Linked DNA regions of Homo sapiens. The protein of the gene in region 1 interacts with the protein of each later gene in a pairwise test. Each region holds a gene or a part of one and is shown in the gene's direction. Other genes may lie near its edges.

Region 1 (3,753 bases):
TTTATGAAATAATTTGCAATAAGCAGTACAGTCAAATCTTATGGGAAGATAAGATGCAGCCAATCTTAAGAATTTATGTTTGTAGGCTGAGCACGATAGCTCATGCCTGTAATCTCAGCACTTTAGGAGGCCGGATGGACGAATCACCTGAGGTCAGGAGTTCGAGACCAGCCTGGCCAACATGGCGAAACCCTATCTCTCCTAGAAATACAAAAATTACCCAGGCGTGATGGTGGATACTTGCAATCCCAGCTACTCGGGAGGCTGAGGCAGGAGAATCACTGGAACCCGAGAGGCGAAGGTTGCGGTGAGCCGAGATTGTGCCACTGCACCCCAGCCTGGGCAACAGAGCGAGACTCTGTCTCAAAAAATAAAATAAAATAAAAATTTACGTTTGTAATGGTTAAATATGGAGTGGTTATAACTGTTTGGCTGTATATGTAAGGTAGGATTTCTTTCTGTTTTTCTTTTTTTCTTTTGAGACATGTTGTCGCTCTGTCGCCCAGGCTGGAATGCAGTGGCACGATCACAGATCACTGCAGCCTCAACCTCCCGCGCCCAAGCAATCCTCCCACCTCAGTCTCCCAAGTAGCCGGGACAACAGGTGCAGGCCACCATGCCTGGCTAATTTTCTTGTTGTTGTTGTTGTTTGAGACAAAGTGTCACTCTTTCGCCCAGGCTGGAGTACAGTGGTATGATCTCGGCTCGCTACAACCTCTGCCTCCTAAGTTCAAGTGATCCTCTTAGCTCAGCCTCCCAAGTAGCTGGGATTACAGGTGGGCGCCATCTCAAACAACAACAAAAAAATACACTTCCTTGATTAACTCCTTTCTTCGAATTCCCATTAGGACCTCTCTTCGGGCACTGACTGATGAACTTCTACCGCCTCATCTTCTCTGCTAGACTTAGAGTTCCTGAGAGCAGAATAAATGCGGCTTGATCAGTATTTGCCGATTCAACGCAGAGGTGCCCAGGTCATCTCGGCGAGTTGAGCTGTCTAAGACCCCGCGATCGCGCAGGACAGGACCCAGAAGCCAGAGCGCAGGAACTGCTTCCGGCCGGCTCCCGGCTTCCGTCGGGCCCCGCGCCCGCGCTGCATGCTGGGATCTTCAGGTCGGAGGCCGGGGTGAGGCCGACCCACAGGCCGCCTTGCTCCCTCGCGAAGACGCTTATGCCAGTCTCGCCCGTCCCCGCTCCTCCTCAGAGAAAATGCTGCCCCGCAGCACTTACCGGAGCGACCATGAGGGTGACGATTTGAAGCACACACAGGCTTCCCGCCACCTCCTTTAAACCGCCGCTGGCTTGCCAGGGACAGACGGCGCGGTTGGCTCCCCAAAATTCCGACTGATACGCGCCTCGGCGAGCGAAAGCAAACGCGGGATACTCTCGCGTTCCTGATTGGCTGGTTGTGGACACCTCAATTATGACAGAAAGGGGCCGGGCGGGAAAGTTAGCTGTGGCCGGCGGGGATTGGCAGAAGGAACCTGTACTTACTCGTTTTTCCCGGACGTTGGCTGGTGGAGAAGAGAGGGTGGGGAGATGGGGCGCTGGGGGGGGGCGGTGGCGACGCAACTCGTGATTGGCGGATGTGCGTTCCTTAGGTCTCTACGGATTGCGGTTGCTTGGCGTTGATTGGGCAGTCGCGGGAAAACTAAAGTGGGCGGGGGGCCTTTGGGCCCGCCCCGCCGCCGGGGCCTGCTGGCGGAAGGGGAAATGGGGTGGGTGGGGGGTGGGGCAGGCGACGGTGGGGAAGATGGCGTACCAGAGCTTGCGGCTGGAGTACCTGCAGATCCCACCGGTCAGCCGCGCCTACACCACTGCCTGCGTCCTCACCACCGCCGCCGTGGTGAGCAGCTGCAGTGCCACCTTCTCATTATCTGGGCTGGATATGACTGGGTCTTCAGGAAACTGGGGTTTGGGCCTCGGGGAGGCCCAGAGGGGCTGGTCCCGGGGATGGGTGGAGGCGTACAGGGATTACTCTGGGGTTCGAGTTGGCGCCAAGAATGCTTATCCAGTGACGCGAGAAGGGAGTGCTGCTTCATGGGGGGTCAGGTCAGTTTCTAAGAGATGAGCGCCGGACCTATAGCGGGTTAGGGTTGCGGGAGCCTCCCACCCAAGAAATGTGTCCGAGAGCTCTGCCAATGGCCAGGTGGTACCATGGTGACTAGTGAGAGGAAGGTCCGTTTAGTGAAGAAACAGGAATGGGGAAAGCAAGCTGGAAACTGTCGAGAGGGGAATGGCTTATAATAAAAAGGGTCTCTGGATCTAAATAAGGGGCTAGCTGGAGGTACCCAGCCCTAACGGTGGCAGGGTCTCCAGTCTCCGTTATTTCAAGTGAGTTTTGTTGTTTCATACAGCTGTTTCAGGTGGTGCCCATGTGGTGGGTAGATTCATAGCAGCTGTTTTTATTTGTCCTGTGTCTAAAATATCACCACCTGTCTGCCTCATTTCTTCATGTCAGCCTCAACTATTGCAACATAAAACAGACTTTTTTGTGTTAGGTATTGAGGATACAAAGAATTCTACCAATCCTAGAGAATTCTTTACCAACCTCTTCCTCTGGCCTAAGAAGAAAGGCTTAAAGGAAATCACGTCTAAGTGACCGAGAGTTGGAAATTGCTAGACCTACTAATTCTTTGTTGTAAATGATGAAATTTTGTTTCTTGATTTGCTTTAAGAAGCTCTTTTTCTATTTCAGCAGTTGGAATTGATCACACCTTTTCAGTTGTACTTCAATCCTGAATTAATCTTTAAACACTTTCAAGTAAGTGGTTCATCACAATAGTGATTAATGCTTCAGTTTCTTCTTTTTCTTACTGTTTAGTAGCAAATCCTGTTATACACTATCCTAAAAAAGAACCCAGTGGGGACCTTTGATTATAAGTTGCCTTGTCAGGATATAAAGCAGTGATTCTGCAGCCTGGTTGGACTTGAGAATCCCTTAGGGAACTTTGAAGAGATTCTCAAGCTCCTCAACAAGTACCAAATCAGAATTTGCAAGGGTAGGAATTAAAATCTGTGTTTTATTTTTAAAGTTCCCTGCATCGTTTTGATGTGTCCAGTTCCTGTATTTGGAAATCACTGGTTTAGACTTAACGTTGTCCTATGAGAGGAGGCTGACTAGCTAGCTGCTTAGGGGTTGTCTCACAGGGATGGCCTTATTTTGTCCATTCAGCACCTAGGCACACCCACCACCTTGGTGTTATCACCATGGTCCAGAAACTCAATTCTGTTAGTGCTTTTAAATTGTGATCTGTCTTCCAGGGATCAGATCATACTAACCAAATTCCAAACATCTAAAGCTATATGGTGGTTTATTAGATTACAATGGGAGATGGTCCTTTCCAGTGATTAAAATGCCAAAAGAGGCTGGGCACAGTGGCTCACGCCTGTAATCCCAGCACTTTGGGAGGCTGAGGCAGGCAGATCACCTGAGGTCAGGAGTTCAAGACCAGCCTGGCCAACATGGTAAAGCCCTGTCTCTTACTAAAAATACAAAAATTAGCCAGGCGTGATGGCACATGCCTGTAATCCTAGCTACTGGCGAGGCTGAGGCAGGAGAATCACTTGAACCCGGGAGGCGGAGGTTGCAGTGAGCCGAGATTGTGCCATTGCACTCCAGCCTGGGAGACAAGAGCGAAACCCTGTCTCAAAATAAAATGCTAAAAGAGAGATGGATTTTTCTGTTCCAGGATGATCTTACCATAGTTGGAGTAGGGGAGAGACCCAAAAGCCAATAACTGTGCCTCTACA
Region 2 (3,753 bases), on another chromosome or scaffold:
TTTATTTCTTTTCTAAGACTAAGAGATTAACAAAGTTGCTGGTTTTGGTGGGATTGCTCCTGATTGGTGGTAAAAGAAAGCAGCACATAAATGCTTATGATAAGCAGGCTGGGTGCAGTGGCTCGTGGCTCATGCCTGTAATCCAGCACTTTGGGAGACCGAGGCGGGTGATCACTTGAGGTCAGGAGTTTGAGACCAGCCTGGCCAACATAGTGAAACCCCGTTTCTACTAAAAATACAAAAAATTAGTCAGGCCTGGTGGCGTGGACCTGTAGTCCCAGCTAATTGGGAGACTGAGGTAGGAGAATCACTTGAACCTGGGAGGCGGAGGTTGCATTGAGCTGAGATGGCGCCTGAGCAACAGAGTGAGACTCTGTCTCAAAAAAATGCTTGTGATAAGCAGACGTCAGGGTTCCTTCTGTCTCCTAGTTGGAAGATGCACTGCCAGGTTTTCTTTCATGTTGAAGCATATCACAGTTTTCCCAATTAGGAGTCAGGAAATCTGTATAGTTGTTTCGTATCCTAGACAATTTGCAAGACTTGAGACAAATCATTTGCTTGTGGATTGAATATTCCATGTTTACAAGTGGAAATAATTTGTCCTGCTGTTTCGTTTTAAAGATCAATACACGGAAGATGGCAATAGGAGGAAAAAATACCTACTATTATACAAATAGCCGTGCTGTTTCCTTGCTGAGAGAAAAACTGGCTATTGAAAAGCAGCGATTGAACTTGTGAACAATGGGGTGATTTGAACTTGGAAAAGAAGGAAAAATGGATGCTTTTTCCTCTCACTAAATCCTCACAGCATTGTGGACTCACACGAACCTTTAGAAATCATTATTCTTTCCATTTTTAATTGACAAATAAAAGTTATATACATTTATTGTGTACAGCGTGATGTTTTGACCTATGTATACTTTGTGGGATGGTTAAATGAAGCTGATGGGCGTGTCTCCATTTTTTTTAACAGATCATTTACTATGTAATTCAGTCTTTGCAGTTTATTCTGGCCTGCGTAGTTAAAATATACTTAGTGTATATTCTTCCTGATCAGTAAGAATGAAATGTAGATGTTTTTATAGGCAATTTCACTCTTTGTTTAAAACCAAGTGTTTAGTTTTGCCATAAACAGATGACATTGCTGGAAACAAGAATGTGAATTAAAACTTAAAAAACATTTAAAATGTGTTAAAGAGTGATATATGTTTCATTACAGAATACTTAGTTATTTTTATCTGCTTTTCATGCTACATAAGGATTCACAGATTAATCTCTTGAGGTAAGGAATGTAACCAAATGTATTTTGAACTGTTGCATATAGAACTTTCTCTTATTTTTCATTATTCTTGAAAATATAAGCATGTAGTCTTATTTTTAAGTGGATGTGGTAGTATAAATTAGAAATTTAAGTTTTGGAATATAAATCCTTGCTGTATATTTCTAGTTTCTTGCACAGCTGCTGTTGATAGATACTTTTTTAGCCTTATTTGGAAAATATATTTTAATAGTATAATTAGTAATCTGAGTGTGTTTATTTCACCACTACTGTGTGCTGGGTTATCATACTGTACAAAGTAGACTTAGTAATTTCTACTTTTTTCCCCACATAATTTGGCTAGAATTTGCATGGTATATAGGAATGCTGTTGCTCTAGAATAAATGATCATTTCACAGTATGTTTTTACAGTGGTGGAGGAGGGGCCCAAAACTTTCATGGGTTGGACTGAAAGAGCTTAGAACGGGTACCGTCTGGTGCGTGCTGTGATCGTCTCTGCTGGGGCTGCTCAGGCTGCCTCCTGTAGGTGGCCAGCGTCCTCTACCCTCCATGGGGTGCAGTCACCCCACCCCACCCCTGGCCTGCAGCCAATGACCGGCCGAAGGGAGGTGGCGTGTGGAAGGCCAGCCTCTGCCTCCAGCAGGACTTGCACTGAGTGCGGATGCACTCGGATGCACTCAGACTCTGGCATCTAGGAGCCTGAGGAATTCGTCCTGCAGAGGCAGAGAGAACAGATAATGAACCTGTGTACTCTTTCCCAGCCTCTGCAGTTTCAGTGTTTTGCCTGGCCTGTTGCATCTGCCCCCTGTGTTTTTTTAATCTTTGTATATTTTATAATATATCTTATATGTCATTTTATCCATATCAGTGTATATCGGCTGTCCCTAACAGATAAGGACTTTTGTGAAACATATTATCAGACTTTGCAAAATTAATGGTTATTCCTCAGCATCATCTGCTACCCAGACCATGGTCATATTACCCTTAACAACCGTGGAATCTTAGTATTCTTGAATGACACTGTGATATGCAAAATAAATGATTCAGACTATGTGTTAAAACTTTGCTTTAATTTAGTATAAAGAATCAGATTGGTAGTGAATTAAGACTATATTCTAAATTTTCCCATTTTTTATTAAGGTCCTGGATGCCTCATCCCTTAGTTTCAACACCAGATTGAAATGGTTTGCCATCTGCTTCGTATGTGGCGTTTTCTTTTCTATTCTTGTGAGTTAAGGCTTTATATTGTTTAATAATTTTTATTTTGTATTAGACTAATAATTCCATTTAGTACCAAAAACTAATGTCCTTTACTAAATCCCTGTTAGACCATTTTGGTGGAAGGTATTTATTAAACTAAAATAAAGGGGTAGAGATCAATGAAAATACGTAGAAATTAGTATTTTGGGGAGTTTTGTGGATAGTTGAAATAATTTAAGAAAAATGTATCAATGTGTTAAAAGATCTGGAGAGTCAGTAATTTAGATGTTTATTACCTTTTCATACTTGGTATTTAGCATGAAAATTTAACTTAAATAGACTGAGATTTACTGGTAAGCACAAAGTTTTGTTATGGCTCATTTATATATGCTAGTGCAAATAGGAAGAAGATTCAAGTTAGTGTATAACATTGAAAATTAACTATTTTTTCTGTGTAATCAGACTAGACTGTCTACAAGCAGATTTGTATTTAAACATATTACATAATATTGGTATTGTATTACTGCAGTAGCACGTTTATATTTTAACCATTAAAATCATAAAATTATTTTAAAATAACTATAATATCTTAACTTAGGGAACTGGATTGCTGTGGCTTCCGGGCGGCATAAAGCTTTTTGCAGTGTTTTATACCCTCGGCAATCTTGCTGCGTTAGCCAGGTACGTTTGGCTTCTCAAAATATCTTGTTTGCTCTTGCTACCAAATTTACCTTTCTAATAAGCACTTTCCCAGTAGGATGTTTATGTAGTTCTGTACATACTGTGAATTCAGCCACAGGATTTACATTCATTAAATAAATATGTATTGACTGCTGCTGTATGCCGTCTCCCATAACAGACGGTATTAGTGCTAGGAATAGCCAGCCTTTGTGGGGCACTTAATGTGTGTCTGGGACTGTTCTAAGTGTTTTGTATGTATTATGACGAGCTTGTGAGGTAGGCAGTATTATCATCCCCGTTTATAACTGGAGATAATAGCACAGAGCAGGGGAGTCAGTGCTGCCCATGGCGATGAACCTAAATCATGGCTGAGGTGGGAATCCTGCAGGCAGTGGGAATCCGGAGGTGGGATCCCACCATGGCTGAGGTGGGAATCCGGAGCCCAGGCTTGGAGCTGCTGCACTCTAGGCTTTGTTCTTGTGGAGCTTACATTTTAATGAAGAAGATGTTCACATGATAAGCCAGAAAAAGATGGGATGGCATTGGTGCTGTGCAGAGAATTAAAACAGGGTGTGGCAGTAGTGACAGAGGGC

Evidence for each region. Proteins that work in one complex are often made in the same cells at the same time.
Region 2: the proteins of DERL2 (region 1) and SFT2D1 interact in binary tests that used the Homo sapiens proteins (3 or more experiments, as listed by UniProt).

Annotation. Positions count from the first base shown.
Region 1 is NC_000017.11:5,484,162-5,487,914, reverse strand, and holds the start of DERL2 (derlin-2), read left to right. Parts: upstream 1-1,753; coding exon 1,754-1,846; coding exon of another isoform or gene 1,847-2,052; intron 2,053-2,698; coding exon 2,699-2,764; intron 2,765-3,753.
Region 2 is NC_000006.12:166,328,914-166,332,666, reverse strand, and holds part of SFT2D1 (vesicle transport protein SFT2A), read left to right. Parts: intron 1-1,259; exon of another isoform or gene 1,260-1,282; intron 1,283-2,419; coding exon 2,420-2,506; intron 2,507-3,077; coding exon 3,078-3,160; intron 3,161-3,753. UniProt on the Homo sapiens protein: May be involved in fusion of retrograde transport vesicles derived from an endocytic compartment with the Golgi complex.